Homo sapiens: one gene and its partners. The protein of the gene in region 3 purifies or fractionates together with the protein of the main gene of each other region. This does not show direct contact. Each region holds a gene or a part of one and is shown on either strand. Other genes may lie near its edges.

Region 1 (4,443 bases), on a different chromosome or scaffold from region 3:
GCTGTGTCTGAGCCCAACCCTTCTAAACGGTGACCTTTAGTGCCAACTTCCCCTCTAACTGGACAGCCTCTTCTGTCCCAAGTCTCCAGAGAGAAATCAGGCCTGATGAGGGGGAATTCCTGGAACCTGGACCCCAGCCTTGGTGGGGGAGCCTCTGGAATGCATGGGGCGGGTCCTAGCTGTTAGGGACATTTCCAAGCTGTTAGTTGCTGTTTAAAATAGAAATAAAATTGAAGACTAAAGACCTAAGGTTTTGTCTCTTTTTTTTTTTCTTTTTTTTTGAGACAGTCTCACTGTGTTGCCCAGGCTGGAGTGCATGGTGTGATCTTGGTTCACTGCAACCTCTGCCTCCTGGGTTCAAGCGATTCTTGTGCCTCAGTCACCAGAGTAGCTGGGATTACAGGGGCTCACTACCATGCCCAGGTAATTTTTGTATTTTTAGTAGAGATGTGGTTTCGCCATGTTGGCCAGGGTGGTCTTGAACTCATGACCTCAAGTGATCTGCCTGCCTTGGCCTCCCAAAGTGCTGGGATTACAGTCCTGAGCCACCACACCTGGCCCCAGCTTTGTCTCTTAAATGTTTACTTTTTTTGAGATCACAAAGATGAAAGATTTTTATAGAGAGAAAAGTCTGGAAAGACATATGCCAAAATGTTAACAGCTGTTATCTTTTTTTTTTTTTTTTTGAGACCGAGTCTCACTCTGTCGCCCAGGCTGGAGTGCAATTGCGCGATCTGAGCTCACTGCAAGCTCTGCCTCCCAGGTTCACGCCATTCTCCTGCCTCAGCCTCCCGAGTAGCTGGGACTACAGGTGCCTGCCACCACGCCCGGCTAATTTTTTGTATTTTTAGTAGAGATAGGGTTTCACCGTATTAGCCAGGATGATCTCAATCTCCTGACCTCGTGATCCGCCTGCCTCAGCCTCCCAAAGTGTTGGGATTACAGGCGTGAGCCACCGCACCTGGCAACAGCTGTTACCTTTAAATGATGGGGTTAAGGGGACGTTCTTCTTTGTGCTTTCCAAGTTTTCTGCATTGAGCACAAAATGCTTTTGTAATTAGATACAGGATCCCAATGAATCTTATTATACTGAAGATAATACAGAGTCACCGTGGGCAGTTAGAAAAATGCAAAAAATCGGCTGGGCGCAGTGGCTCACGCCTGTAATCCCAGCACTTTGGGAGACCTGGGTGTGTGGATCACGAGGTCAGAAGTTCAAGACTAGTCTGACCAACATGGTGACACCCCGTCTTTACTAAAAATACAAAAATTAGCTGGGCATGGTGGCGCGTGTCTGTAATCCCAGCTACTCAGGACACTGAGGCAGGAGAATTGCTTGAACTCAGGAGGCGGAGGTTGCAGTGAGTCGAGATCCCGGCAGCCTAGGTGACAGGCGAGACTCCATCTCAAAAATAAAATAAAAATAAAAATGCAAAAAATAATAAAAGGTGCCAGTTACCTATACTCCCACCACCTAGAGATAATCACCATTGATCTTTTGAAAATGCAAATATTCAGCTGGGCACAGTGGCGTGTATTTTTTTTTTTTTTTGAGACGGAGTCTCGAGTCTCTCTCTGTCGCCCAGGCTAGAGTGCAGTGGTGTGATCTCGGCTCACTGTAACCTCTGTCTCCCAGGTTTAATCAAGTCTCTTGTCTTGGCTTCCCGAGTAGTTGGGACTACAGGCACGAGCCACTGTGTCCGGCTATTTTTTGTATTTTTTTGTAGAGACAGGGTTTCGCCATGTTGGCCAGGCTGGTCTCGAACTCCTGATTTCAAGTGATCTGCCTGCCTTAGCCTCCCAAAGTGCTGTGATAACAGGGGTGAGACACCATACCCAGCTTGTAATCCCAGCACTTTGGGAGGCTGAGGCGGGTGGATCACTTCAGGCCGGGAGTTCGAGACCAGCCTGGGCAACATGAAACCCCATCTCAACTAAAAATTCAAAAAAGTTTAGCCAGGCTTGGTGGCGCAGGTTTGTCATCTCAGCTACTGGGTGACTGAGGCATGAGAATCACTTAAACCTGGGAGGAGGAGGTTGCAGTAAGCTGAGATCTTGCCACTAAACTTCGGCCTGGGTGACAGATTAAGACTGTCTCAGAAACAAAACAAAACAACAAAAAAGCTTTTAGAGCAAGTTCATGGGAGATGCAGCAGGAGGCGCAGGAACCACACATGTGCTAGTGAGGAGTGTGGGGAGACTGGGAGGGCCCACAGGTATTGTGCTGCTTCTGGCTGAGGGCAGGGGAATAGGGTGGCTGCTTCTGAAAGCAAATATCCTGAAAAACCTGTTGCTGGTACTCCAAATTCTGGTTCCCATGTAGATCATGAAACCTGAAAAACTTCCAGGCAAGTAGCTTTCAGAATCTTTCCTGCTGTGATTAGCTTTCACTGCAGGTAGTGATTACCTGTGAGATAACATCTGGGAATTATTGATTGAAAAGACCTTCACTATCGGTTGGGGGCGGTGGCTGATGCCTGTAATCCCAGCACTTTGTGAGGCTGAGGCGGGTGGATCACCTGAGGTCAGGGGTTCAAGACCAGCCTGGCCAACATGGTGAAACCCCATCTCTACTAAAAAATACAAAAACTAGCCAGGAGTGGTGGCAGGCACCTGTAATCCCAGCTACTTGGGAGGCTAAGGCAGGAGAATCACTTGAACCCTGGAGGCGGAGGTTGCAGTGAACTGAGATGGCACCAGTGCACTCCAGCCTGGGTGACAGAGCGAGACTCCATCTCAAAAAAAAAAAAAAAAAAAAGAGGCCAGGCATGGTGGCTCACGCCTATAATCCCAGCGCTTTGGGATTTTCTGTCTCAAAAAAAAAAAGAGAGAGACTCTGGATCAAAAAGGATTTTCACAAACAGATCCAAAGAACCAGCATCCAGATTAAGAAACAGCATTAACAGCAACCCAGAAGCAACCCTTGGGACCTGCCTCAATCTCTGCCTCCTCCCTACTCCCCATAGGTAACCTCTATCCTGACCTCTTAACACCATGGATCAGTGAAGCTCCTTTTAAAAGTATATAAATGGAGTCATGTAGATTTGATTACTTTGCGTTTGGCTTCTTTCCCTCAGCAACATGTTTATAAGGATCATCTAACAACAGCAGTTTTGAAAAGTGAGTCTCAAAGAGGCAAGAATGGCCGGGCATGGTGGCTCACACCCGTAATCCCAGCGCTTTGGGAGGCCGAGGCGGGCGGATCACAAGGTCAGGAGTTTGAGACCAGCCTGGCTAACAGGGTGAAACCCTGTCTTTACTAAACCCTGTCTTTACTAAAAATACACAAAATTAGCCAGGTATGGTGGCAGGCACGTGTAATCCTAGCTACTCGGGAGGCTGAGGCAGGAGAATCACTTGAACCTGGGAGGGGGAGGTTGCAGTGAGCCACTACATTCCAGCTTGGGTGAGAGAGTGAGACTCCATCTCGGAAAAAAAAAAAATTAGCTGGGCGTGCTGGTGGGTGCCTGTAATCCCAGCTACTTGGGAGGCTGAGGTAGGAGAATTGCTTGAACCTGGGAGGTGGAAGTTGCTGTGAGACGAGATTGTGCCATGGCACTCCAGCCTGGACAAGAGTGAGACTCCATCTCAAAAAAGAAAATAATAATAATATAGTTTATTTTTCAGTATTTCATGTTGATTTATCTCAAATTTATTGTTGAATAAGAAGTGATACAGAGATTCAAAGTTATTTTTCCCAGATACTTTTTATTGTCCCAATACCACCATTTATTGAACAATCTATATTTTATGCACATTTCTTTTTTTTTTCTTTTTTTTGATACAGGGTCTTGCTCTGTTTCTGCCTGGGCTGGAGTAAAGTGATAGTAAACTGATTCTCCCACCTCAGCGTCCTGAATAGCTGGGACCACAGGCACACGCCACTGCACCTGGCAAATTTTTAAGTGTTTTTTTTTTTTTTTAATACAGAGCCTTGCTCTGTCGCCCAGGCTGGAGTGCAGTGGTGTGATCTCGGCTCACTGCAACCTCCGCCTCTCAGTTCAAGCGAGTCTCCTCCTGCCTCACACTCCCAATTAGCTGGGACTACAGGCACGTGCCACCACAACATGCTAATTTTTTGTATTTTTAGTAGAGACAGGGTTTCACCATGTTAGCCAGGATGGTCTCGATCTCCTGACCTCGTGATCTGCCCGCCTCAGCCTCCCAAAGTGCTGGGATTACAGGCTTCAGCCACCGCGCCCGGCCCAGTTTTTAAGTGTTGTAGAGATGGAGTCTTGCTTTGTTGCCCAGGCTGGTCTTGAACTCTGGGCTGAAGCGATCTGCCCACCTTGGCCTCTCAAAGTGCGGAGATTACAGGTGTGAGCCACCACACCCAGCCAGAATTTCTTGAATAATCTGTCTCCATTTCTCTATATAGCCTCATTGATCTATCTAAACTCCCATATCTATTTTGGTTGCTAGACTGTTCATCCCAATTACATG
Region 2 (5,059 bases), on a different chromosome or scaffold from region 3:
GGCAGACCAGGTAACGAAAGCCAAGTGCAGTGAGCATCCTCCATGCGCGCGCGCCAGCCTTGCGCTGCGCTCGCCCCGAAGCGCAGGCCCCCAGACGCCTCGGCACCCCCGTGCGGCCGCTGGGCGCGGCGCGGCGCTGTCAACAGAGACCGAGGCCCTTCGGGGGCCCTGCGCCCCGCCTCCTCCTCCTCCTCTTCCTCCCTCCCCTCCTTCTCCCTCTCCTTTTTCTTGCAAGCGGTCCAGAGGAGACGCTGCAGCTGGCGGGCCAGGACCGCCATCCTTCAGCCCTGGGATCAGGAAGGCTCCACCCTGTACACCTGCCCGCCCCCTCCATTAATCCCCTCCGCTGTGAGATTTTAAACCATCTAAATCTCCTTCCTGTCCTTTGACCTGCTCTTTAGGCGGGTCACTAGAAGGAATTACACTTCTGGGTCTCCTGTTTCCTGCACCTACAAAGCGGGGTTTGGGATCTGAATCAGGAAAAAAAAAGAAAAAAGATAATACTGTACCAGTGGCAAACTATTACATAGTACTAATGTGTCACACACTGTTATACATCATCATCTCCAGTTTACATATGGAAGAAGAAACAGAGTCACAGAAGTAACCGGTGTTCCAGGGAAACTAATTCTAGAATCTGTGTTCTCAACACAACACTCAGTCCAAGCTCCTCCCACCTCAGTGGTACAGCCCCCAGCCTCAAAACCTGTAAATACCATACTTGGCCGGGCGCGGTGGCTCACGCCTATAACCCCAGCACTTAGGGAGGCCGAGGCAGGCGGATCGCTTAAGCCCAGGAGTTTGAGACCAGCCTGGGAAACATAGCGAGACCCCGTCTCTACAAAAATTAACATTTAGCCAGGCGCGGTGGAACACACCTGTGATCCCAGCTACTCAGGAGGCTTAGGTGGGAGGATCACCTGAGCCCGGGAGGTCGAGGCTGCAGTGAGCCGTGATCGTATCACTGCACTCCAGCCTGGGCAACAGAGCGAGACCCTGTCTCAAAAAGATATATATATATATATATATATATATATATATATATATATATACATATTTTTTTTTTCTTTACTGTTTTTAGTTCGACCCCTCCCCTCTGGGGCTTCGCTTATTTTCTCTTCCAGGCCCCGCCCATCCAGGATTCAGGCACACAGCTCCAGACCCTTCTAATTTTCGCAGACCTGGAATCGCCTGGAATCCGACCCCACCCAGTTATATTTGAATAATTCCCTGTTGCTTTAGCCCTGCCCACGTTTGAGCTCCTCCGCGTGCCCCAAAAGTTTCTGAATCGTTTCATTCGGCCCCCTTTCTCGCTCCCTCTGCAAATCTAGGCTCGGACCCTACCTCAGAGCATTAGAATCTTTCCACCCCCTCCTCAATGGCACCCCGAGCACCACCCCAACCCACCCAGGGATCCACGCTCTCATCCTCTCTGCCGTGGCTCGTTCACCATCCTCTCCCAAGTCCCTCGCCAGACTCCAGGCCTCCTTCCCTCTTCCCCTAAAGGCTGCGCCCTCTGCGATCTAGGCCCCGCCCTTCAGGCCGCTTTCCCCTCCTTCCTGGCTCCGTAGCCCACCCTCTTGGTTCCGCCCCTTTAGTAAGAAGGCCACGCCCCTCCGCCTGATCCTCGGCGTTTCCCCGCCCCTCACCCTCCCTCTGGTACCGCCCCGCCCGTCTTCTGGCCCCGCCCCCGGCCGCGCGCTGCAGTGCCTTCCCCACCTCGGCCCCGCCCGCCCCCGCCGAGCCGAGCACCAGGGCGGCGGCGGCGGCGGCGGCGGCGGCGGCGGCTGGAGCAGCCCGGGAGGAGGAGGCGGCGAGAATGGCAGCGGCGTCGTGGGCGCGGCGGAGATGAGCGCCCGCGACCCCGGGCCCAGGGCGGCACAGCCGGAGTGGGCGGGGGTCCCGATGCAGGCCCGAGGGGGGCCATGGGGCAGGTCCTGCCGGTCTTCGCCCACTGCAGTGAGTAGAGGAAGACTGGGGCCTGGTGTGGGCCCCAGAGGTTCAGGTGGGGTACTCCCCGGTGTCCCCTCGGCGCTTGCCCGCAGGAGAGCCGGGATGGGGGGAGGAGGCATAGGAGACAAAGGAAGCTCTCCCCTCCCCCGCGCTCTGGCGGCGACGGGGGTAGCCTGACCCGGAGGACCTGGACGAAACAGGGCGGAGGTGAGGGGGCACTGAGACAGCAGGCGGGGGGCGCGCTGCGCTCTGGGACGTACCGCCCGGCCCCGCCCGGGAGCGAGGACGCGCGCGGGGAGCTGTCCCCTGGCTCTGGTGCTGGCCGCAGCTGGCGGGGAGGGGGTTGAACGGAGGGTAGAGCCAGGATGGAAAACAGGGGTCTGGCTCCCAATCACTTGCCTTCGCATCCCATCCCCGTTTTCTGTCCAAGAGGCAGCCCCGACCTCGCCCAAACTGTCCAACCCTGTCCCGGGAAAACAGCCATCCGTGGTTTGGGGGCAAGGACTCATGGGTTCTTAGCGGTCTTTACCACTGGTTAATGGTAATCCTGGGGAAGACCCACACCATTCCAGGCCTCCTATTCCCCAGCTGAGGAAACGAGGTGAGGGCACAGGGCGTCAGATTTCAATTTCCAAACCGCATTGAGCATCATCTATGTGCAAAGCTCTGAACTAGCTCTAAGGGGCTGGATTCCCAGCTGAAAACGCCTAGCCTCACAATCTCTGAGCTCACAGCTATAACAGTCCATGTCTACCGTTCTCTGTCCCACACATGGGGGTTCTGACAGCTGGGGATTTCAACACCCTTAGATCTAGCCATTTCCATGTCTCGCGTGTCCAGATGCCAAAATTCTAAGAATTGGTGATTTCAGCATTTTCGAGTATCATCCCAACATTCTATGATCTTGTCGTTAACTTCAGATTACAAAGGGAGGACCACCTCGTCTGTCTCTCCCCACCGCCCTTACCTCTCTGTTCTCACCTCCCACTCCTCTCCTCCTCAGTCACTCTTCTCCAGTCATATCTTCGCACCTCTCAGTTCCTCAGATGCCAAGCATGGTGCCTGGCTCAGGGCCTTTGCACTGGCTTTCTTCTCTACCTGGAAGACGTCCCTGAACATCTGCATGGCTTCCTCACTTCCTTCAGATCTCTGCTCAAACGTCATCTTATCAGAGAAGCCTTCTTGACCACCCTATGAGAAACAGCACCCCTTCACTTTCTCTTCCCCTACCCTTCTTTACTTTGCTCCCTATGCTCATCTGCACCCGACGTCATATATTCACTTGTTTATTGTTTGTCTATCCCAAAGAGTGTCAGCTCTAGGAGGGCAGGGATTTTGTCTGTTTTCTTCACAGCTGTATCCCCAGGACCTAGAACAGTGCCTGGCACATAGTAGGTGCTCAATAAGTGGTTGTTGAACGAATGAATGAATTGAAACCTCCTAAGATTCCTACTTTGAAGACTCTAAGATTAAGATTCCTGGATTTGGACTTCAAAGACTCTGAGCTTCATCAGGCAGTGATGCTAGGTTTTAGAGTCTGTGTGCAGAATGTTCTAAAAATCCCGTGATTCAAATATTCTAAGATTCCAGGACTGGGACACTTCTGTGATTCGGACAGTCTAAGCTTCTAAGAGTCTTCGATTCTTTCCCTCTCGCAGAAGAAGCTCCGTCTACAGCCTCCTCAACTCCTGATTCCACAGAAGGTAAGTGGTGGGGAGCATGTGAAGGGGCTCAGGGCTGGGCAGCTCAGGGACCTGCTGAGGGAAACAAGGCTCTCCTTCACCCACTGCAGGAGGGAACGACGACTCTGATTTTCGAGAGCTGCACACAGCCCGGGAATTCTCAGAGGAGGACGAGGAGGAGACCACGTCGCAGGACTGGGGCACCCCCCGGGAGCTGACCTTCTCCTACATCGCCTTTGATGGTGTAGTGGGCTCCGGGGGCCGCAGGGATTCAACTGCCCGCCGCCCCCGCCCCCAGGGCCGCTCAGTCTCGGAACCACGAGACCAGCACCCTCAGCCCAGCCTGGGCGACAGCTTGGAGAGCATCCCCAGCCTGAGCCAATCCCCGGAGCCTGGACGACGGGGTGATCCTGACACCGCGCCTCCATCCGAGCGCCCTCTGGAAGACCTGAGGCTTCGGTTGGACCATCTGGGCTGGGTGGCCCGGGGAACGGGATCCGGGGAGGACTCTTCCACCAGCAGCTCCACCCCGCTGGAAGACGAAGAACCCCAAGAACCCAACAGATTGGAGACAGGAGAAGCTGGGGAAGGTGAGATGTCCGAGGTGCTGGGACCAAAGCCAAGAGGGGTGGGTGGTTTCTCCTTGGGGCACCTCCAAGAAGAAAGCTCACGGCCTCCTCTCTCTACCGTATCAGAACTGGACCTACGACTCCGACTTGCTCAGCCCTCATCGCCCGAGGTCTTGACTCCCCAGCTCAGTCCGGGCTCTGGGACACCCCAGGCCGGTACTCCGTCCCCATCCCGATCGCGAGATTCGAACTCTGGGCCCGAAGAGCCATTGCTGGAAGAGGAAGAAAAGCAGTGGGGGCCACTGGAGCGAGAGCCAGTAAGGGGACAGTGCCTCGATAGCACGGACCAATTAGAATTCACGGTGGAGCCACGCCTTCTAGGTAAGCAACGTGTATGAAGATGCTGCATTGGCCCACAGAAGGCAAAAGGTGAGAGGATTTTGAATTAAAGGGACCAACCTCGCAAAGGAACAGTACATAGTGGAAAAGGGAAGAGATAGACGTGATATCACATCTGGCTAGACGTGATAAACTCCGCTTTTTAAAAAAATTTCCCCGGCCGGGCGCGGTGGCTCATGCCTGTAATCCCAGCCCTTTGGGAGGCCGAGGCGGGCGGATCACTTGAGGTGAGGAGTTCGAGATCAGCCTGGCCAACATGGTGAAACCCCGTCTGTACTCGGGAGGCTGAGGCAGGAGAATCGCTTGAACCTGGAAGGCAGAGGTTGCAGTGAGCCAAGATCGCGCCACTGCACTCCAGCCTGGGCGACAGAGCGAGACTCCGTCTCAAAAAATAAAAATAAAATAAAATAATCCTCCCTCTTCTGGAGTGCTCCTCCTAGTGGCTGATTTTGGACA
Region 3 (4,443 bases):
CTGTGAGTGGCAAGTGGAGTTTTGTTTCTGCCTCTGTCCCTATGATATAACAGGTCCTTGTCAGTGGCTTTGACCCCTGTCTGTGGCTCTGTGTGGCTGGTTCTGAGCTCGTGCCTGTCGCCAGCCCAGGTCTTACCTGCCTCTCAGTGTGGGCTCATGGCTCTGGACTCTGCAGACAGTGTCCCAGGGTTTTCCTCCTTTAGTGGTCTTGCAGATTTAGGATGTCAGCAGGATCTTAGAAATTCCTTGCCTTGCAGTTGCAATGAGTCGAGATCACGCCACTGCACTCCAGGCTGGGCCACAGAGAGCAAGACTCTGTCTCAAAAAAAAAAAAGAAAAGAAAAAGAAGAAATTTTGTGACCTGACTTAAAATGAGGATTATGTCTAAACTTAGATCATAAAGTGACTTCCAGGGCTGTTGTGGTGGAATCTAAAGGACATTCTGAGAGTTGTGTTGGGAGAGGAGAGCCACGAGGCAGGACATGTGCATTTCTTGCTCCCTCCTTTGTGCTTGGCCTGGTGCATCCAGTGTGGTCCAGGCACGCTGCAGCTCCAGCAGCTCTGTGAGGCGGGAGCGTCATCTCGTCTGTCCTTAGTGCCAGTCCAGGGTGCAGTCCTTGCCTGTGGTGATGCCCGTATGGCGGAGCCCAGGATGAGCCCTGCGGTCTGCGCCGGCCTGTGTCTCCCTCCACGTTCTTTGATAATCAACATGCTCTCGTTTTCCCCTGATGTTCTCGGTAGGAAAAAACACCCCAGAGCGCTCGGGGTTACCGAAGGGCTGTCTTCTGTACAAAACCCTCCAGGTGCAGATGTTGGACCTGCTGGACATCGAAGGCCTCTACCCTCTGTACAACCGGGTTGAGCGATACCTGGAAGAGTTTCCCGAGGAGAGGTGAGGTCGGGCGGTCCCCCTGTTGGGCAGCCCTGAGAGGAGACTGTGGGAGTGGGCAGGGTAAGAATGCGCCTCCCAAGGCACAGCTTCCCAGGAGGATGAAGCATGCCGGCCACTTCCTACCCCAGTCCTCCGCTCCCAGGTGCCCAGGCCTGCTCTGGAATGTAGTGCCTTGTAAAGGAGGAACAGGGTCACTTGTTTCTAGAAAAGAAAGCACGTCTGTGACCTTGCTAATTCGAAACCCCAAGATGGGGCTGAGCCTGCAGAGGGCAGTGTTGCTCCACAGCTGAGCAGCGCTCCTGCAGGTCGTTCTGTGTCAGCCCAGCCTCTGTCCTGGGCTTTCACTGCGGGTCATTGGGGTCCACACCCGCGGTGTCCAGTCGGGGCCAGGATCCTCTTCCTTCCTCGCTGGTCTTCCTTGCATCTCTGACGCAGGATGCTACTTGTCATGAACAGGAGAAGGCTCAGCTTCAAGGCTCGCTGGTTCTGGTCTTGCTGAGTTCTGTTAAAAACCTTGATGTTTAACATGAGGGAGATAGATCTGTTATGTGTTTTTCAAAACAAAATGTGTGATGTTTAGTGGTGCTGGGCTTTGTAGACTGTTAGCAGTTTAAGAAACAACCTCCGTGCGGCTTTGTCATCCTGTTTTTATTGTGCTTTCTTCTTCAGAAAAACCTTACAAATAGATGGGCCTTATGATGAAGCATTTTACCAGAAGCTGCTTGACCTTTCCACTGAGGATGACGGGACAGTGGCCTTCGCGCTAACGAAGGTGGGCAGACCCATCCAAAAACTTGCTGTGTGATCCTTAGCTTCTTAGCACTAATCTGTTTTTTTGTTTTTTGTATTTTTTTTTCCATTACCTACCCCTGAGGTTTAAAGCAGAAAACTTGGGATCAAAAAGAAGTGGCTGAAGTTTCTCCCAGATGAACTGGGGCAGGTGGTGGTGCATTGAGGTTTTAAGGGGAATTTCCCTTGGTTGAGTTCTGCCCTGGCCCGTTCCTGGTGGGGTCAGGCCCCAGGGGCGGCCGATCTGCAACCCATCTGCATGCCTTCTCAGCAGCCCACAACAGGCTCTCTGCCAACTGTCCCTTGCTACAAGGCCCTTGCCAGGGTCCTGGGACCCCACCTGTGCCTCTGCCCTGCCCCTGGCTGTATGCGGGCGGCTTCCTTCCCTTAGAACCGAGGCCAAGGGACAGCCTGCAGGAGTCTCTTAGGGAAGAGGACTGGCCCTGTACTTCCTGGGTCTGTGAAATTCAGGGCTCCATGAGCTTGGATAGGAAAAAAATGGCATCTTCATTTTCACTAAGCTGTACCTGGAATTTAGCATTTCTTTCCATTACGAATGTGGCAATGAGCCTGTGGGTTCATCAGGACCCAGGAGTTTGCCACTAAGAGAATAAAAAAACAGACTTTCCGTCTCACACTGTAACTGCAGACACTTTGAGATGTGGTTTATTCATCACTGCATTAAATGTTACATATTACTACGGAATACATTTGTTTTTAAAAATATTTTGGCTCAGCACTTTGGGAGGCTGAGGTGGGAGAATTACTTAAAACCAAAAGTTGGAAGCCAACCTGGTCAACATAGTGAGACGCCCATCTCTACAAAAGAAAAATTAAAAAATTAGCTGGACGTAGTGGCGTGTGCCTAGAGTCCCAGCCACTTGGGAAGCTGAGGTAGGAGGATGCAGTCAAGGCTGCGGGGAACTGTGATCATACCGCTGTGCTCCAGCCTGGGTGACAGAGCAAGCCCCGTCTCAAAAAAACATTTTTTTTTTTTTTTGGTATTTTACATTTCTGCCACCTGTATTTTATATTACACATTTTAAAATGTTATCCTGGGCCGGGTGTGGTGGCTCACGCCTGTAAACCCAGCACTTTGGGAGGCTGAGGCGGGTGGATTATGAGGTCAGGAGATTGAGACCATCCTGGCTAACATGGTCAAACCCCACCTCTACTGAAAATACAAAAAAATTAAGCAGGCGTGGTGGCAGGCGTCTGTAGTCCCAACTACTTGGGAGGCTGAGGTAGGAGAATCACTTGAACCTGGGAGGCAGAGATTGCAGTGAGCCAAGATTGCACCACTGCATTCTAGCCTGGGCGACAGAGCGAGACTCCATCTCATAAAAAAAAAAAAAAAAGTTATTCTGAGAGAGGCCCATAGGCTTTACTAGGCTGCCAAAGCCTTTACAGGACAATAAGCAGTGAGGAAACCTGTTCTGGAGCGAGCTGGCGCTCCTCCCCACATGTGCATGCACCGCTGCCTGGAGCCCTGGGACCCACTTGCCCTGTCCCGTTGACATGTCTGTGGCTCACATTTGGGAGAGAGCCCTCAGTGCTTTCTTTAACTGGGGCTGCAGCTGTCTGTTTTGAGGAGAACTGAGGATGTCTGGTAAAGCCTCAGGTGAGGCTCTGACGCAAAGGGCCACAGGGATGTTAGCAGAGGCCCAGGGCAGAGTTGTCATCCTGGTGAGGAGAGTTCCAAGTGGAGCCCTGGGGTGAGAAGAAAGCAGTGGCACCTGCCTCGTGCTGTCTGCCAGTTGGGTACGTTGATTTAGGTATAAACAGCAGTGTGGCGGGTTTTTTCCTAAGAGAAGAAACAGGACTTTATTTCCTTTTTATGTATTTCTGTATTTTTCAGTTTTCCACAAAATAAGTATGGATTACTTTTTAATTTTACTTTAATCTTTTAACCTGATATGTAAATGTAGTGTTGTAAGCAGCTAAAGCAGACATTACTTAACTAGCAGAAGGGCTAAAATAAAGACACTGAAACAACACCAAATGGAGGTGCAGAGAAACTGGATCTCTCATCTGTTGCTGATGGGGATGGAAAATGACACAGTCACTCCGGAAAACAGTTTGGAAGGTTCCTACACACTAAACACGCAATTACCCTGTACTTGTGCTCCTGGGCATTTATCCCAGAGAAATGAAGACTGACACTCACCAAAAAACCTGTACAGAAATGTTCACAGCAGCCCTTTTTGTAACAGCTAAAAACTGGAAACCACCCACATGTCTTTCCACGGTGACCTCCAGCGGGTCAGACAGACTGTGCATTCATACCACAGAACTCTGCTCAGCACCAAAAAGGAACAGACTCTTGCTAAACAGCCCAGGTGGACCTCCAGGGGGCTTTGTTGGTGACGAAAACCAATCTCCAGAGGTCACACTGAATGATTCTGTGTGTATAACATCCTTGAATGGCAAAGATTTGTGGTTGCCAGGGGTTGGCAAGGAGGAACAAGGGAGGTAGATGTGGTTATAAAAGGTCAAACCAGGGGATCCCTGTGGTGATCAGACTGTTCTGTATCTTGACTGTGGTGGTGGATGCATGAACCTACGTGTGATCACACACACACTCTCATACACACTCGCATATATGTAAAACCCGAGATATCTGAATAAGATTGTGGATTGTGTCAGCATCACTCACCTTGCTGTGATATTGTAGCTTTGCAAGATGTTACTGGTGGGAGAAACGTGGCTTGAGGTCTTTCCGTGCTGTCATAGAAGGGCCTGCCCTTTTTCTCTTGTAGGAA
Region 4 (4,443 bases), on a different chromosome or scaffold from region 3:
CAAAGTGGCAGAAACACTGTACTTATATTTTTAACCTTGTTCTTTTACTAGAATTAACTTAGAATGTATCTGTTTTACAAATTTTTCTAACAGAAATATGCCTGCTACCTAGGGAAATATTATATATGTTTTAAACATTAATTTAAAAACTTGAACTTTGAATTCCTTTTCTTTTAGCTTGGGATGTGGTAATGCCAGCCACACTCCTCAGAGCCGTGGCCAGATCTCATCATATATTATCAAAAGCACATCAGTGCCGAAGAATCGGTCATCTAATGTTAAAACCACTTAAGGAATTTGAAAATACAACATGCAGCACACTGACAATACGTCAAAGCTTGGATTTGTTCCTTCCTGATAAAACAGCTAGTGGTTTGAATAAGTCTCAGATCCTGGAAATGAACCAAAAAAAGTCAGATACCAGCATGCTGTCTCCATTAAATGCTGCTCGTTGCCAAGATGAAAAGGCACACCTTCCAACCATGAAATCCTTTGGTACTCACAGGAGAGTGACCCACAAACCAAATCTGTTGGGTTCTAAATGGTTTATAAAAATATTAAAGAGGCATTTCTCATCTGTATCAACGGAAACATTTGTTCCAAAACAAGACTTCCCACAGGTGAAGAGACCACTAAAAGCATCCAGGACCAGACAGCCATCCAGGACCAACCTTCCAGTTCTGTCTGTGAACGAGGTAAAGTAGGGGTGGCCGTGGCTCTCGTGCTTAGTGATCATTGCTCATGCTAAACCAGTGTGCGTTGCACCCCAGCCTTACCGCCAACGTAAGAGAACTAGCAGTCACTCAGACTTCTTCATCAAGGTCTTTGAAGCCTAATAAATATCCAAAGGGATTCAGAATCTTAATTTTTAACAATTAATGATACATATAAAAACAAAATACAGGTGATAACACATGAAAATAGAGTTTATAAAAGATTTGGTTATTGGTCTAAGGAAACTGAAAAAGAGGACCAATATTAAGTCCAGTCTAAGAATGGGACTGTAAAAAAAAATAAAATAAAAAAAAACAAACTAGAAATTCTTCATCAAGTTAAAAAAAATTGTAACTCTGCAGACAGATAAGCCTTTATTAGGCTGTGGCAGTTGCATGGGGCGGTGAAATGACACGGTAGGGTGGACTCCAAAAGCAGCAGGAGAGGAGGGCCCAGCTTTTTTATCCTCTTAAGGTTTAAGGGGGTATTTTTTATTCATCCTTAAGGGGTTTCTGGGAATTTTTCTGCTACAATTTGCATTTCTCCTTCAGTAACAACTTAAGGGTCAAGATCAAGCCCTTGATAACCTTTGTATCTTGCATAATACCTAGAACTGTACCTTGTACTTAAATGTTTATAAGAGGATCTTTAATGCCGATAGTCATCAACTTTAAAGATATTTTAAACTTGATGAAGACTTCTGAATCTATCAGAAAACAGGTTAGAATGTCTGTCTTCAAGTCTTGATTCTGAAAAGTAGCCCCTGAGCCTGTTTCATTTTGGCTGTGTTTTTATTACTGTGCAGCTGACACCCCTTGGAAAGGTATACATACATACCTTTACTCATCCTCTGATTCTGAATCTAGCAATGAATGAATGGTTTTTGTGTTGGATTCTGGAATGCTTTCAATTCTTGTGTGGTTACTCTGAACTCAGGACGTGAAGGATGAAGTGTTGTGCAGCTACTGTTTCCCCTTTCCTTTTGCTGGAGCTTTGGGGTAACCTGGGAAATTCAGTATTTAAGTGTCCGAGATGGCATTAAGTGTAAAAACCTGAATTCATGGCAGCTCCAAAAAAGAGAAAGCTCAACTCACTTTGTTCATTTGTAACGTCTAGCAGCACAGTGCATCAGGTTTCTTAGGAAGAAGCTGATAGGTCAGAGATGTCCCTAGGCTATTTCTTTGGGCCATCCTTAGACTTGGAAGCAATTTTCCTAAATACCGTATCTATTTTTCTTTAGATTTTTTTTTCTACTTCCTTCCAGGAAAGAATTTGAAGTAGATTTTCAACATTCAACATAGTTTCAAATGAGATAATAAATACTTTCACATATTAGAGCAAATAGTTGACATGAACAGAGAAATGTTATGAAGTACCTGAAATGAATAATCTAGTTGAACATTTTGTTTTGAGAAGCGCAGTAATTAAAAGAGGAACTCCTCCTGGGATTTAGTGTTTGTTGTTTATTGTTGTGGGAGAGGGCAGAGTAAAAACATAAAAATATCTTCAGAGAAATAACTTTTTCCAGCACTGAAATTAAGGAGTTAGTTATTTCATGGATTCTGTTATAGGAGACATTATGTAACATGATAGACAATGACTTCAGTTGGAGTTTGGCAAGAGCAAGTCGCATGCTGTCTTTCTGAAAGCACAGGGAAATAATAGAAAATCAGATGTTTCTGGCTGGGCGGTGGCTCACAGCTGTAATCCCAACACTTTGGGAGGCCCAGGCAGGCGATTACTTGAGGTCAGGAGTTCGAGACCAGCCTAGCCAATATGGTGAAACCCTGTCTCTACAAATATACAAAAATTAGCCAGGCGTAGTGGTGCACACCTGTAATCCCAGCGGCTCGGGAGGCTGAGGCAGGAGAATCTCTTGAACTCGGGAGGTGGAGGTTGCAGTGAGCTGAGATCATGCCACTGCACTCCAGCCTGGGTGACAGAGTGAGACTCTGTCTCAAAAAAAGAGAAGAAAATCATGTTTCTAAAGTGGTCTGAGATAATGTAATTTTGGAACATCATTTTTTGAAGATTTTACTTTTCATAGAGAAAGCAGTCTTGGCATGACTAGGTAATATGTCCCCAGGACCAAAGACTGACTTTCCTCTGCCCGAAATTGAGGGCCACTCCATTTTTATACGGCCATCATAGTGGTAAACCCTTTATACCACTTTATACCATCAAAATGGTAAACCCTTTATACCATTCTTGACTGAGACAAGGAAAAGACTCTGCTTTGTGTCAGAAAGCATGTGGACTTTATTTTGTTCCCATAGTTGCACCCAGCTCATCTTTTCAGCTCTGCAGAACAGCGTGCATCTGGAGTTGGCTGAATGAGGTTTCAGTCACCCTGTCTGTTGGAATTAAATCTTTACCTGGTCTCATTTTCAGAGATCATAATCTGAGATACTCAACCCACATCCCTTTGGCTTACAATTCCTAAAAGCAATAGTGGATCCAGTGGCTTATGCCTATAATTTCAGTGCTTTGGGAGGCTGACACAGAAAGACCACTTGAGGCCAGGAGTTGAAGACCAGCCTGGCAACATAGCAAGACTCCCATTTCTAAAAGACTTGGAAAAAAAAAAAAAAAAAAGCCGGGCTTGCTGGTGCGCAGCTGTAGTCCTAGCTACTCAAGAGGCTGAGGTGGGAGGATCGCTTGAGCTCCAGGGTTCCAGGCTGCAGTGAGTCGTGACTGCACCTCGCTCCGTCCAGCCTGGGCGACAGAGTGAGGCCCTGTCACTAAACAAACAAGAAAACAATAATAGCAGTGCTTCTTGTTAATGTCCAGTCTTTGAAGAGAACAGCAGAGGATGGGAACGGCAGGTCTGAGTGGCATGGAGCCCGACACCAGGGAGAATGTTTTCAGGCTAATAGCACTGTGTTACAGAATCACTGGTGGACTGTTAACCATTTTTTTGAAAAATGAAATAGAATAGAAAATAACAGAATACATTGCTCATGATAAACGTAAATACTGGTTTGTGAAGCTTTTGTGGCAATTGGTGTGTAAGCATATATGTGTATATGTACTATGTTTAATGATTTATAGGTTGTAGTCAGAAAAACTTACAGGATAAAGCGTGATCTTGGTAACGTAAAATGTATCTGTGTTTTTATAGCTTTAATCTCCAATCAGTATGTTACAGGAGAAAAGGCATTTTTCCTTAGTATGATCTATCTACTCACAGTACTTCTGACATCAAATATATGGGGACCTCTTCCTCCTCCTACCAGCCAGTTCTCCAATTCTCCAGACACTAACAAGGTGTCCTGCAATTCAGTTCAATTCCAGCACTAGCCAGAGTTAGTGCAGACGCCAGTTAGTTAAGCTCAGCCCCACAAGACTGCCCTCCCAGTTGACACCTGTGCTTCTGACCAACCAGCTCTATGACAACCATCCCCTCTTCAGGTTTGATTATTTGCTAGAATGGCCCACAGAACTCAGGGAATCATTTTATTTATGTTTACTGGGTTTTTTATATAAAGTATGCAAATGAACAACCAGATGTAGAGGTGCACAGAGTGAAGTCAAGAAGGGCCTGGAACTTAGGAGCTTCTGTTCCTCATAGAACTGGGCTGTGCCACCCTCCTGGCACATGGATGCATTGATCAACCCAGGAGTTCTCCAGACCCCATCATCTGGGTGTTTTTAATGGAGGTTTCATTGTGTAAGCCATGATTAATGATTAACTCAATCTCCAGCCCCTCTCCGTCCACCAGAAGTTAA
Region 5 (4,443 bases), on a different chromosome or scaffold from region 3:
ATACCTTGATGGCAGTTAGCTTCCTGGAGAGAAATCAAGGACTGGACAAGGGGAACCATGTGTACTGATTCTGACATAAATGCATGACCTTGAATAGCTGAGGCCTTTTTCTGCAGGTCTCCCTCACCTGTGAAATGGTTAAGACTCTCAATTTGACCACACCAATTGAGTCATGAAATGTCGTCTGATTTGCTGTAAGAAGCTGAAGTGACAGTGATGTCATTTGACTGTGTGAGACCAGGAGGAGACCTCACAAGTGCAATCTATAAATTGCCTCCTGTCCCCGATCCCCTCACCTGCCCACCACACCTGGCATTACATTAGGGCATTCAGGGCTGGCAGACACACTTTGAGTGTCAGTGGCTGCTGGTGGGATGACAGCATGACTGCAGAGACCCCACTCTAGGCAGTCAGAAGTTTGTCCCTGCAGGCCTGGTATCTCTAGTGCTAATGAGGTCAGCTTGGCCTGGCCTGCTTTGTCACCACCCAAGTGCTGTGCCCGGGACCCTGGGCAGCTGGAGAGCAGAGATGGTGTCATGGCAACAATATCAGTCTAGAAGTCAGGAAAACCTGGCTTCTCTTCCTACCTCCCTCTGTCCTTGGACCAGTCACGCCTCCCTACCCATCAGTTGATCTTTGTGGTCCCTTCCAGGTGTGATATTTCTGTCATTCCACTGACTCTGGAAACTCTGGCAAGTCACTCAGCCTTGGACCTCAGTTTTCCCATTGTAAAATGATGAGGCTGGATGTGGTCTCCTTTCCAAAAGTCTGTTTCTGCCTTGGAAAGGCATTTTTCTGCCTCTGAAAACAGGAGTTCTAGCATCTGGCCATGAGTGGAGAGAAAGGTGGTCTAAAGATCTGAAGAGTCCCTGTTCAGGCCTCAAAAATGAAAGCCCATTTTTCCCAGCTTCACCTTTGCAGTGTGGAATTCAGCCACCACTCTGCCACTTAGCAGCATCTCTGAGCCTCAGTTTCCTCATGTATAAAAGGGGAACTAAGCTGGGCGCAGTGGCTCACGCCTGTAATCCCAGCACTTTGGGAGGCTGAGGCAGGGTGGATCGCCTGAAGTCAGGAGTTTTGATACCAGCCTGGCCAACATGGTGAAACCCCGTCTCTACTAAAAATACAAAAAATTAGCTGGGCATGGTGGCGGCTGCCTGTAATCCCAGCTACTCTGGAGGCCAAGGCAGGAGGATCGCTTGAACCCAGGAGGCGGAGGTTGCAGTGAGCCAAGATTGCGCCATTGCACTCCAGCCTGGGCAACAAGAGTGAAATTCCGTCTCTAAATAAATAAATAAAAAAAAATAAAATGGGAACTAATAGTATCCAGTTATAGTGCTATTAATGTGATTATTACATAAATAAATGCACATAAAAGTTTGTATACACAGGAAGTGTTCAATGAGTGACAGCTGCCCCTGTTAATATTTTAACCACCTACAGCAAATGCATCCCTACCTCAGCCTCCTACAACCTTCCTCTGAGCTGAAGGATTACAAATCTCTCAAACCTAGGCTGCCACCAATGTCCTTCCTTAGGGTATCAGGGTTTCCATGTGTCCTATACTGTTCACTTGAGCTGGTCATGGCGGGAGGGAAGATGACACCAGCTGCCTTGTAGGGATAAGGGTGGGGGGCTGAGGCCATGCTCCCTCTGCACTCTCAGATACCCAAGAGCCTGGGAGCTGATTTTGGGGTCTTGCCTATTCTCTCAACACCCCTGCGTGGGTAGGAGTTCCGTTGGAGCCCTCATTCTGTCATCTATGGCAGCTGCTTCCCTTGCAGGTTACCCCTCCTATAAGAATAGAAAGTGCTTTGCAGTTCTCCTTCCTACCCTAACCATGGAGCAGAGCCTCGGGTAGACTCTTGCAGAGACTGGGGTGGGAGGAGCAGGGTGGGAGCTGAAGTTCTAGAATAGTTGCTTCTGGGTTCTAGTCTACCTCTGACTCAGTGGGTGACATTAGGTAAGTCACCTTCCCTCTCTGGACCTTTTTTCTCTCCCCAGCAGTCAGGAATTCTTGCTTGTCCTTGGTGGGGAGGGGCCAGTGGTGTGAAGAGGATTTAGGCTATTGGGAAAACTGTGGGAATGACTCCAAGCCTTAGGAGTTAGGTGCATTCCCCACCCCACATTGTGCTGTGGACCCCGCATGAACTCTGCTTTGTTCCATGTTCACCTGACTCCCAGGCTAGTACTTATTCCAGAGGAGAGCCTCACTGTAACTCAGCTCACCACTGGCATCTCCTGCAATTGTTTACCCATGTTCCTGACCCAGAATGCCTGGCAGAGGCCCGGGAGCCCATAAAGCAGGTATTCATCTTGTCTCCTGACCAGGGACACAAAAGGCTTCTTTTGTCCCTTTATATCTTATAGCTTTTTTTGGTTTTGGTCTTTGCAAGGCGAATCCTGCCATCTCCTCTGTAGATTAAGTCTGTGAATAGGGGAGATGGGGTCACTGCCCACTTCACATGCATGGATATCAGACCCAGCAACTGGTTTCCTATAAAAATGACACTAGAAGGTGCCTCTCTCACTTCTCAAAAGAAGAGAAGAACAAATAGCCTAAAGGTCACCTTGAAACTGTCTCAAGAAGCCCAGATAGGACTCTAAAAAGGAAGCGATGACCTTTTTCTCTTTGGGAAAATAGCAGACTGACTGCAGAACAGTGGGAGGGAGGTCAGCTGGGGACTGGGAGGAAGGCTTCAGGTAGGACATGTGTCTCTAGGAGTGCCAAGGCACTTAGAGGGCTTAGTTGGTCAGATTGCCCAGACTTCATTCAGCTGAGCACCCTCGAAGTTTGCCTTTCCTCTCCTTCCAAGCCAGCCCCATGGCGTCCAGCCCTGGTACAAAGGAAAGACGTAGTCAGAAGCCCTGGGTTCTGCTCCTGATGCTGCCTCTCAGTACCTGTGTGACCATGAACCTTGAGGTTCATGCACCTCATTCTCTGAACCTGACTTGCCTCATCCTTAAGACCAACGTAGAGGCTGAACGTGGGAATGCCTGGTAGAGTGCCCAGCTCACTGTAGTAACTTTCAGGGCCGTGCAGATTCTTCCCCTTTTGGGAGGTCTTCCCAGCCCACAGCAGTCACTTTCTCTTTCTCTCCCAAACCCTTTTCCCTTATTGTTTATCCATAACAGTGGCATTAGGCCTTGCCTGCCCTGTGACATCTCCTGTGTTGAACGGGTGTGTGTGTTTTAATAATAGTTGCCACTTAGTATCTACAGAGTAGTGTCAGGCACTTTATAAAAGCAATCTTATTTAATCCCTACTCAAATCACATGAGATAAAAGCTGTCTCTGTTTTGCAGATGAGGAAATGGCTCAGAGAGGTTATCTTCAGTGATGTCAAATTGCTATTTATTGTCTGTTCGAGTCTTGGCATAGCCTGCTAGAGGGGTGCAGCTGCATCTCCTGCCTCTGGCATTCCCGCAGCAGATGCACATGGCCCTGCACTGAGAAGCGCCCAGCTCACTGCACCTGCACTCAGGAATTGTAGGACTCCCTCTAGGAGTTGGGCACATGTCGTTGGTGGGAGCCCTGTCCCTGCCTTGAGAAAGCTGTAGGTGTTCTGTGTCCAGCTGTGCACCTGTCCTTTGTTTTTGTGAGTCTTCTTGGATGCACCTGAATCCTGCATTCAGGAGGCCTATCCCTTGTTCTCTGCTAGCAACCCTGCCTGCTATCTCTCTTCCGGTGCCCTCTCAGCCATCAGACCAGAGCTTGCTTCTTCCCTGCTTGGGCAGGGAAGTGCCAGGTAAAGGGTGGTCTCCTTTAGCCACAAGGGGTGGCTGACCTTATGACCTCCCGCCTCTGAGCAGAAAGGTGACAGGCTGCTTTTGGTTACCCTCAGGGCCCAGCAGAGTCCCCTGAGAGGCAGCCTCTGTTGGGAGCAGGTGGCACAACTTTGTTTAGCTCTACAAGGCAGGAGGAGTTTAATAGTACTTCTCATTAGCACTGAAATTTGTTTCCAAAGCACTTGTGTGTACAATATTTAATTTAGATCTTCTCAGTGGTCCTGTGGGTTAGAATAGCATGTGGTATTGATGTGTTCATCATTTTACATCTAAGGAAATTGAGCCTTCGGTTGTGACCTGCCTGAGGTCACTTAGCATGCCTGGGACTAATCACTCAAGGCCAAACTCTCTCCTGCCAGGCCAACATGCTGGGTTCTTGTTGGATCAAGGGGGATGAGAGATTTAAAGGGGCTTTGAGGAGAGTCAATGACCAGACACATCCACATTGGTAACCTGGATTGTTGTCAGGAGGGACACCTGTTCCTCCTGTAGGCAGGAAGGGCTAAAGGGTCTGGGTGGTCTGGAGCCTTGACAGCTTTGGCTCAGCTCCAAGTTCTTTTCTACAACTTGAACATACCTGTATTTGCATGAAGGAGGATGAGGGCCAGAGTTGCACTGGGGACTGACATTCTCATAGCCCTTATCTGTGGAGCAG
Region 6 (3,500 bases), on a different chromosome or scaffold from region 3:
CTTCTGCTACCCATTGTGTATTCCCTTTGCCTTCAGCAAGCAACTCAGCAGGTCGTGGTTTTTTTCCTGGTGGAGTGACCCAATGATCTCCATAAGCGCCTACTTTAACTGGGGGACCACAATGTTGTTTTGGGTCCCCTGGAATCAATGTCAGCTCAGAGCCAGTGTCCAGTAGTCCCCAAAATGTCTTATCATTTCCCTTTCTTTTCCAGCCATTTGCTCTGATGCTTCCTCTAGCGTGGTCTGGGCTTTAATCCATTCCTTTCACATGTTGACTTGCCTTTCTTATCAGATTTTTTTTGCTTTGTTTTTTCCAATTGGAAAGATCTATAATATAAGCTTGGGTTCATGGTAATGGTTAATTTCACTCTCTCTCCAAACTATGTTATCTAAATATGATGATTACCTTGTTTTGTAGTTACAAATATGGCTACACTCCAGATCATAATATCCTCAGAAAGAAGTAGAACATTCACATAAAGTGTAGCTATTTGTTAAGATGCAGTTAAATGATTTCATATATGAAATTATTTGATGAATGTCTATTAATAAAAAATTATATTTCTTTTTGTTTTAGATTTTGGTTCTTTAAATTTGCTGCAGCAATTGCAATTATTATTGGGGCATTCTTCATTCCAGAAGGAACTTTTACAACTGGTAAGAAATCCTTTTTAAGTTGTTTGACATTGATATTTTATAAAGGAATCTGAAATAATTGTCACCTGGAACTATAATTGTTTGTCTTTTTGTTTGGGGGTGTGTGTGTGTGTGTTTCCCCAGTTGGCAAAATCAAGATGTTCATATAAAATTTTATTTTCCTTTTTGTGTACTGTGATTTTGAAAGGAAATGATAAAAATCAAACTAACCAATCACTTATGTATGCTTTCTTTCCCTTTCAGTGTGGTTTTATGTAGGCATGGCAGGTGCCTTTTGTTTCATCCTCATACAACTAGTCTTACTTATTGATTTTGCACATTCATGGAATGAATCGTGGGTTGAAAAAATGGAAGAAGGGAACTCGAGATGTTGGTATGCAGGTAAGCTTTCGTCGCAGAACAACTTCAGTATAGTTGAACTTTGAAGTCGAGAATAGATATGTAGACTAGGTAAATCACTTAGGATTTTTATGGTCTACTTTCCTATGATGAGGTTTTTAATTTAAACTTTGTGAGTGTCAAAATATCACATTGTATCAGCAACTTGGTGAGCAGATCTTTTAGCAGATTAACTGGGAACATAACCCAAGAACCAGGAAAGAATCCAAAAGAACCTGAATAGCTAAAATAAATGTTCCAAAGCATATTACTGAAAGCATGTGCACTTTATAGCCTAATTTTCTAGCCTACAATGGGTTAAAAGCAAAATATTAAAGGGAAGAGGATTGCTAGGAATAGATAAACACACAGTGATACAATTCATAAACAGCAGCAAATAAAAAATATAAAAAGCAACTCGGATGTTTTATTCAAGTGCAAAGGATGCTTTTATGTGCATCAATAACAACTAAAGGAATTCCTATAGTAATGTAATTAATGATTATTTATAATGATGATGTTGAGTCCTTTGGGGTTATACTTGAAAACAGATATCCCAATTCAAATGCTTACAGGGCCAAACCAGGTAACAAAAATGAGGGAACAGGAGGACAGAGTTTAAGTGCATAAGCTTTGTGCAAATAGACTACAATGAATTGGAGAGTATGAATGCCCCATCTAAAGTGCATTACTACTGCTCAGCTCCATTTATTAGTTGCCTTGTGGGAATGTGAACTTAGTATTGCTTGATTTTTCTAATGTTTTTCAAAAGAAGTCATAAATCTGGATTTTCATGCTAAATGACTGAGTTTCAGCTAAAAAAATTTTAAATTGGAGTGCAAGCCAAATCCAGTGTGTCTGCTGGCCTAATATTCCTCTCACACAACTAATTTGTGGTGTTTTATCTCAGTGGTTCAAGTTAAAATAATTTGGTGCTCAAAGAAATAAGCTTTAGTCATTTGGAAATTTCACTTACATTGAATACCTTGTTCTCTAAATGCAAAGTCTAATGCAAGGGTTTCTGTGTCTTTTGTTCCCTGCTGTATCCCCAGGGCCTGGAATGCAGGCATTCAATAAATATTTGTTGGATGGATCCCCTGTCAGCGAGGCAAATCTACATAAATACTTGTATATTAGGCACATATTAGCATAAAGGCTAAACAACTTGTGTATGTTGAAATTTACATAGAAAAAGCATAGGTTGACTTATTAAATAATGACTTACCCTTGCATAATATGTATCTTTTAAGATTTTAGTTCATGAGGAAAAGCATCATTGTTGTGAGGGCTTAACATTAATAATGAAAATAATTTTCTTAATGCCCTTGTTTACAACTGAGTGATAATGGTTCTTTAAAAACCTTAAGTAATATTCCTCTTATAGTTATTTTTCTTTATTTTGAAAATAATGGCTAACATGTAAACATAGTTTGTAAACTCTAATATAGATATTAGTATTAAATCCTATTAGTTTCTTACTAACTTGCCATCCTTGCAAATACATAATAGCTATGTGTAAAAACTAGAATTCTTCAGCAATAAAGGTCAGAATTAATTTTCTTTCCTGCTTTTATAGCCTTTATAATGCTGACAATGTTAGTTGCTTAAAATATATTTTTTGACAAAATGACAGATTGTTTATAAAACAGGTCCCATTTCTAATTGCTAATAATTTCTGATAAAAAGCTAATTATCCAATTATATTTCTTTCACAGCCTTGTTATCAGCTACAGCTCTGAATTATCTGCTGTCTTTAGTTGCTATCGTCCTGTTCTTTGTCTACTACACTCATCCAGCCAGTTGTTCAGAAAACAAGGCGTTCATCAGTGTCAACATGCTCCTCTGCGTTGGTGCTTCTGTAATGTCTATACTGCCAAAAATCCAAGTATGCCCTTTAAAGCATTAGTTTTTATGAAGCTTATACCTTTTTAAGTTTTCAAAAATCTAGAATGATGTCAGACTATTTACCTGTGTTGCTATATATATATATATATATTTTTTTTTTTTTTTTTTTGTAGGAATCACAACCAAGATCTGGTTTGTTACAGTCTTCAGTAATTACAGTCTACACAATGTATTTGACATGGTCAGCTATGACCAATGAACCAGGTGTGTTTTATTTATATTACATGTTCCTAAAGGTTCTGCAGTTGTTGTTTTTCCAGAAATTGTCTTTTTGTGAGATTAAATTACTTAAAAATTAGGCTTCTAGAGGAATAAAGTACAAAGTTTTGATCTTTGATGTATTATTTATTTCACTTAGTTTCTTCCATCACTAACAAAATTATAAGAAGGTTACATGTATACCTAAGAGAAACTGTGAGTTCAGTTTCAGAGCACCACAATGAAACAAGCATCACAGTAAAGCATGATTTTTTGGTTTCCCAGTGCATATAAAACTTTTGTTTATCTTACACTAGTCTGTTGTGTGCCATAGCATTATGTCTAGAAAAACAATGTACATT
Region 7 (4,443 bases), on a different chromosome or scaffold from region 3:
TGAAAGTTCAGCCTTTAGCCCCTTTCTCTTTCCACTCCTCAGTCTCTCCTCAGTCCTGCTTTCAGCAAAGGAACTGTCTTCTCAAAGTAAACCTTGTCAAACTCAGCACCTGGAAGCAGGGTTAAGGCCCAGTGGGAGGGGATCTATCCTCACACTTGGCTCTAATCCAAGCAGCTATGCTGGAGGCCTGATGTCTTTGTTCTGGTTAATGGACGGGGTGATGGTGGAGCTGGGGATAGAAACCAGCTCTATTAGCAATTCAAACAGAACATTTTCAGAACCCTTTGAGCACGGTGAAAACCCCAGTGCAGACTCATCCATTCCTATGATTTAATGATCATCTAGATTTTCTTAACTCCCAAACCTCTCTCTCCATCAATAGCGTCCCCTAAGCTCTAGACTCCTTGCCTACTCACTTTACCACCTGGCTGCCCCTCTCCCCCAAGCTTGTCACCCTCTCTTACAAACTTCATCTTCCCCTCTTCATGTATCGTGTCTTCACTGATGGCTACTGTTTCTTTCCAAAACCATAAATCTTGAAGTCATCCTTGATTCTCTTTCTTCCTATCCAGTTAATCCCCCAATATTGTCAATGTCTCATTAGTTTCTCTCAGTTCTCTCTTCTCTCTATTCGGTTCCCACTGACAATATCTGTTTTTATGTTTTCATCATCTTGGACTATGGCCTCTTAACTGGTATGTCTAACTCATCATCTTCCACAATGCCTAAATGATCACTGATAAAGAATAATGGTTATTATTATAACATTTATCAAATATTTACCCTGCATTTCATATGACCTAAATGCTTGTTAAGAACCGTGAAGGGTCTGAGATTTTACCCTACTTACAAGCTAACAAAGTTAGTTGGCCACAGGTTCATAGGTGCTGACAGAAGACACGGACTCCTGTGAAATCTTCACTCCCATGAAGAAGACTCAGAAACAAAGAACCTTATGAGCAGAAAGCATGTGTTTGTTTCTCTTGCCCCGCAAGTCCCATAGCCATGACATGGAGGGGCTCACATGGATGTTGTGCAGGCAGAGGCGTTGCATCACAGCCGAGGAACCCCAAGCTCAGGGAACACTATTCTCTTACAAGGGGCAGAAGACATGTCTGACTTCAGCCCTGAAAGGAGACACTACCTTTACTATACTCAAGAATACACAAATTTGTCCTTTGCTCCAGAGGGTAACATCATCTCTGCCTTCCAAAGCTAGTTACTGTATAAAAAAAGTCCAGAACAAAGGCAGCCAGTGCCTTTGCTAGCAAGGTGTGCAAAAACGTGAAAGACCCATAGAAAACTGTCTCCCAACAACTCTCTAGCCCTCACAACCACCCTGCAAGGTGAGATTCGCCTACCTGATATTTCATAAATAGGGAATGTGAGGCTCAGGAAACCTTGGTGACTTTCCCAAAGTCACAGGTTTTAGAGATGGAATTCAAACTCAGCTCTGATTTCAAAGCTTATGCTATTTCCAATGTTTAAGGCCTCTCAGGTGAGATCATGTCTTATCTGTTCAAAGTTCTTCACTCTCTCTTCTTCACTAGAAAATGAACCATAAACTCTCAGCTTTGCAAATGAATCCTTCCATCACCTGCTCTCTGCCTTCCCTTCCCACAACATCTCCACATATTCCCTGCCTTGCATTTCTGAACCAGCGGGGATGAGCTACATGATGCTGTTTCTCAGCACTGGGTCTGAGACAGCTCCCTCAGTCAGGCTCCCTCATTGAATGGGGGCCATTTGAAGGCAGAGGATAAGATGTATTTATCTCTGTACTCCTTAGCACTTTGGACACAGCAGGAACTACATAGTTTGCTGAATCAAACTGAGGAATAACGTCTTGGTCAAACCAGTGAGAGATGGAAATAAAACAGTGAAAAATTCACAGAAAAGACTAGAATCATTATCAATCAATATTTTTAAAGTACAAGCCATGGTGCTAAAGCTATGAGGTATACTAAAGATGTAAGACAGGCAAGTCCTCTTAAAACACCCATATTCAGGAAGAAGAGGAAAACTGTCATATTAAGGGATCTGTATTATAGGAATGGCCCAGATAAGGGTAGTGAGTTTTAAGGGCTAAAAGGTTAAAAAAAAAAAAAGAGGCATTATGGAGGAGACAGAGGGTAAAAATGGGGTACAGCTTAAATGACAAGTGTTCAGAAGTAGGAAAACAAAGCACAAAGCATTTTTACTAAACTGGAAGTGATGCCATAAGAGAACAGAAGTGAGGCTAAAGTGGTAGGCTGGGCCAAATTGTAATGAGCTTTTAATTCTAGACAAATGTTGTCCACAATGGGAATCTAGGTTCCTGATAACCTGCAGTGGCAAGGTGAAAGAGCTGTTCTAAGACTATGCACCTGCTGGCATATGAGGGTTGGATTGAAAGATGAGAAAAACAGAAGCAGAAGAATAACAAGGGGCTACTGCACAAGACCAGGCACACAGTTAACATTGCTCAATAGACAGCAGAGACACAGGAAGGCTGACAAAAAGCTAGACACCAGAAACAAAGTAGGAAGAACCAGCAAAGGTTCTTATTTCTTGGGGGCAGAAGGGAAGTGGTAAGGGACAGGGAAGGAAAGGACAGAAAACACAAAACAAAACAAAACAAAACAAAACAAAACAAAACAAAATGATTACAAAACTCATCTGCAGATGAACACAATTAACCTAAAAAAAAAAAAAAAAAAAAAAAGCAGAAAAGGGAAACAGAAGGGAGAAAAAATGAGTTCAGTTTCAGACATGTGGATCCCAAGGCCATGGGCCAAAAAAGCCATCCACAGTATGGCTTTTGAATATACTGGGTTTGAATATACTTTTCCTGTAAAACCTATAAAAACAAAAAAGCAACCCACTCATCTTATTAAATGTGTCCCGACATTTTGGAATTAAAGGATCCTATGTCAATAACTGAACATGCTGGGATTAACTGCAATCAGACTCGTGTGTAAGTATAAATTGATTAGCTAAAAATATTAATCAGAATTACAGCATGTTCTTAATATTAAGTTTTGAGTTATGTAAACCTTCATGGACCTACACGACAAGACTGTTTCCAGCATAAATGGAACCGCTCTTTAAAAGAAAGTTATTACCTCTGGGTGGCTCTCACACCCACTCTTGCAGAAGACTTCAGTGGGAAATCTTTAAATGTTTAAATAGTTCTTTGGACTCTCTTGAGTAAACTTATGTGTTTAATCTTGCCTCTATGGGAACATTAGTGTATGTTCTATGCTGATGCCATATTTACGTGAAGCAGAGAATGCCTCTTTATGTCTTTCCATGGTATCTGTATGGATTCCTGTGCTCACCCTTATGGCTACTGTAAGGGAAGGCCTCTCTTATAAAGACCTCTAGACTATGCATTCTCCATAGGGGAGATTCTCCCCCAAGGGAGCAAACACTGGCTCTTGGGTGGGAAGCTTTGAGAAAATCTTTCTCTTTTATATGTAAAACAGTTGCAGAGGATATCTACAATATTAAAATTTCATGGAAGGGGGCAGAGATTAAGAAAAATGTGAAAAGGCTCCTTTTAAAAATAAATTTTAAAAAATACTGAGAAGCACTGCCTTAGGTAATCCCTAAAACCTATGAGGCCGTAAATATTATTAGCAGATTTTTCTACCTGAGAGAGAAATAATACATAAGGGAAATCATACCGTATTGAAGTTTAAACAATTCTAACCTGTGTGGTATGGCCACAGGTGAATAACTCTTGAGTCAGTGTCTCCCATCCTCCCCACCCTGTCTTCCTCATAGAGCTGTGAAGATTAAATGGCATAGGCATATGATGGGCCCAACATCTAGGTGGTGATCAACAATGTAACTCACCATTCAGAAGAAGAATTGGGCATTCTTAAAGATAGATGACAGACTGTCCTTGCTAAACACTGACAACCTGAAACATGCAACAGTACTAAAATATGTGCCAATATATGAAGGGCATTCCACATGCTGGGAGAGCAACAGTAACAACAAATGGTGTATTTTAGTAACTCAAGAGCTAGACACTCTCCTGAGCACTTATCTTGAATAATCTTACTTTATCCTCCTAACACCCTTGTGTGGGAGGTTTTATCGTCTCCATTTTACAGACCAGAACCAAGATAGTCAGTTCATGTTTAATAACCAGCACTCCACTAGTTACTAAATAACCTTTTTTCAATGCTCTGGTGCTGTATTTCTGTTACATCCTTTATCTTACTCCAAAGTCATCTATATATCAGCCTTCCTCCTAATCATCTCTAGGTGAGAGCAAGGATTCTGTTTTAGACATTTTTGAAGGCCCTACATAACCCACTACATAGTAAGCTCCCAAATCAATATTGCTAAATCAGATGGACTATACGCTAAATTAAAAAAAGATAATCAAATCAGAAGATGCATACATATATATATAAAATTTGATAATACATAAAACAAATATCAATAAAT

Evidence for each region.
Region 1: the proteins of IPPK (region 3) and TYRO3 purify together in Homo sapiens (affinity purification with mass spectrometry; 2 studies listed by BioGRID and IntAct, with this or other methods). This does not show direct contact.
Region 2: the proteins of IPPK (region 3) and RTN2 purify together in Homo sapiens (affinity purification with mass spectrometry; 2 studies listed by BioGRID and IntAct, with this or other methods). This does not show direct contact.
Region 4: the proteins of IPPK (region 3) and RMND1 purify together in Homo sapiens (affinity purification with mass spectrometry; 2 studies listed by BioGRID and IntAct, with this or other methods). This does not show direct contact.
Region 5: the proteins of IPPK (region 3) and SLC9A1 purify together in Homo sapiens (affinity purification with mass spectrometry; 2 studies listed by BioGRID and IntAct, with this or other methods). This does not show direct contact.
Region 6: the proteins of IPPK (region 3) and SERINC1 purify together in Homo sapiens (affinity purification with mass spectrometry; 2 studies listed by BioGRID and IntAct, with this or other methods). This does not show direct contact.
Region 7: the proteins of IPPK (region 3) and MPZL1 purify together in Homo sapiens (affinity purification with mass spectrometry; 2 studies listed by BioGRID and IntAct, with this or other methods). This does not show direct contact.

Annotation. Positions count from the first base shown.
Region 1 is NC_000015.10:41,579,090-41,583,532, forward strand, and holds part of TYRO3 (tyrosine-protein kinase receptor TYRO3 isoform 1 precursor), read left to right. Parts: 3' UTR 1-4,443. UniProt on the Homo sapiens protein: Receptor tyrosine kinase that transduces signals from the extracellular matrix into the cytoplasm by binding to several ligands including TULP1 or GAS6. Regulates many physiological processes including cell survival, migration and differentiation.
Region 2 is NC_000019.10:45,493,692-45,498,750, reverse strand, and holds the start of RTN2 (reticulon-2), read left to right. Parts: upstream 1-1,703; 5' UTR 1,704-1,925; coding exon 1,926-1,959; intron 1,960-3,611; coding exon 3,612-3,656; intron 3,657-3,745; coding exon 3,746-4,225; intron 4,226-4,330; coding exon 4,331-4,585; intron 4,586-5,059. Other genes in the region: PPM1N (putative protein phosphatase 1N), read right to left, coding at 1-278. UniProt on the Homo sapiens protein: Inhibits amyloid precursor protein processing, probably by blocking BACE1 activity. Enhances trafficking of the glutamate transporter SLC1A1/EAAC1 from the endoplasmic reticulum to the cell surface.
Region 3 is NC_000009.12:92,631,607-92,636,049, reverse strand, and holds part of IPPK (inositol-pentakisphosphate 2-kinase), read left to right. Parts: intron 1-741; coding exon 742-892; intron 893-1,561; coding exon 1,562-1,664; intron 1,665-4,443. UniProt on the Homo sapiens protein: Phosphorylates Ins(1,3,4,5,6)P5 at position 2 to form Ins(1,2,3,4,5,6)P6 (InsP6 or phytate). InsP6 is involved in many processes such as mRNA export, non-homologous end-joining, endocytosis, ion channel regulation.
Region 4 is NC_000006.12:151,441,560-151,446,002, reverse strand, and holds part of RMND1 (required for meiotic nuclear division protein 1 homolog), read left to right. Parts: intron 1-177; 5' UTR 178-191; coding exon 192-695; intron 696-4,443. UniProt on the Homo sapiens protein: Required for mitochondrial translation, possibly by coordinating the assembly or maintenance of the mitochondrial ribosome.
Region 5 is NC_000001.11:27,148,218-27,152,660, reverse strand, and holds part of SLC9A1 (sodium/hydrogen exchanger 1), read left to right. Parts: intron 1-4,443. UniProt on the Homo sapiens protein: Electroneutral Na(+) /H(+) antiporter that extrudes Na(+) in exchange for external protons driven by the inward sodium ion chemical gradient, protecting cells from acidification that occurs from metabolism.
Region 6 is NC_000006.12:122,451,308-122,454,807, reverse strand, and holds part of SERINC1 (serine incorporator 1), read left to right. Parts: intron 1-577; coding exon 578-657; intron 658-900; coding exon 901-1,038; intron 1,039-2,750; coding exon 2,751-2,920; intron 2,921-3,053; coding exon 3,054-3,144; intron 3,145-3,500.
Region 7 is NC_000001.11:167,766,054-167,770,496, reverse strand, and holds part of MPZL1 (myelin protein zero-like protein 1 isoform a precursor), read right to left. Parts: intron 1-4,443. UniProt on the Homo sapiens protein: Cell surface receptor, which is involved in signal transduction processes. Recruits PTPN11/SHP-2 to the cell membrane and is a putative substrate of PTPN11/SHP-2.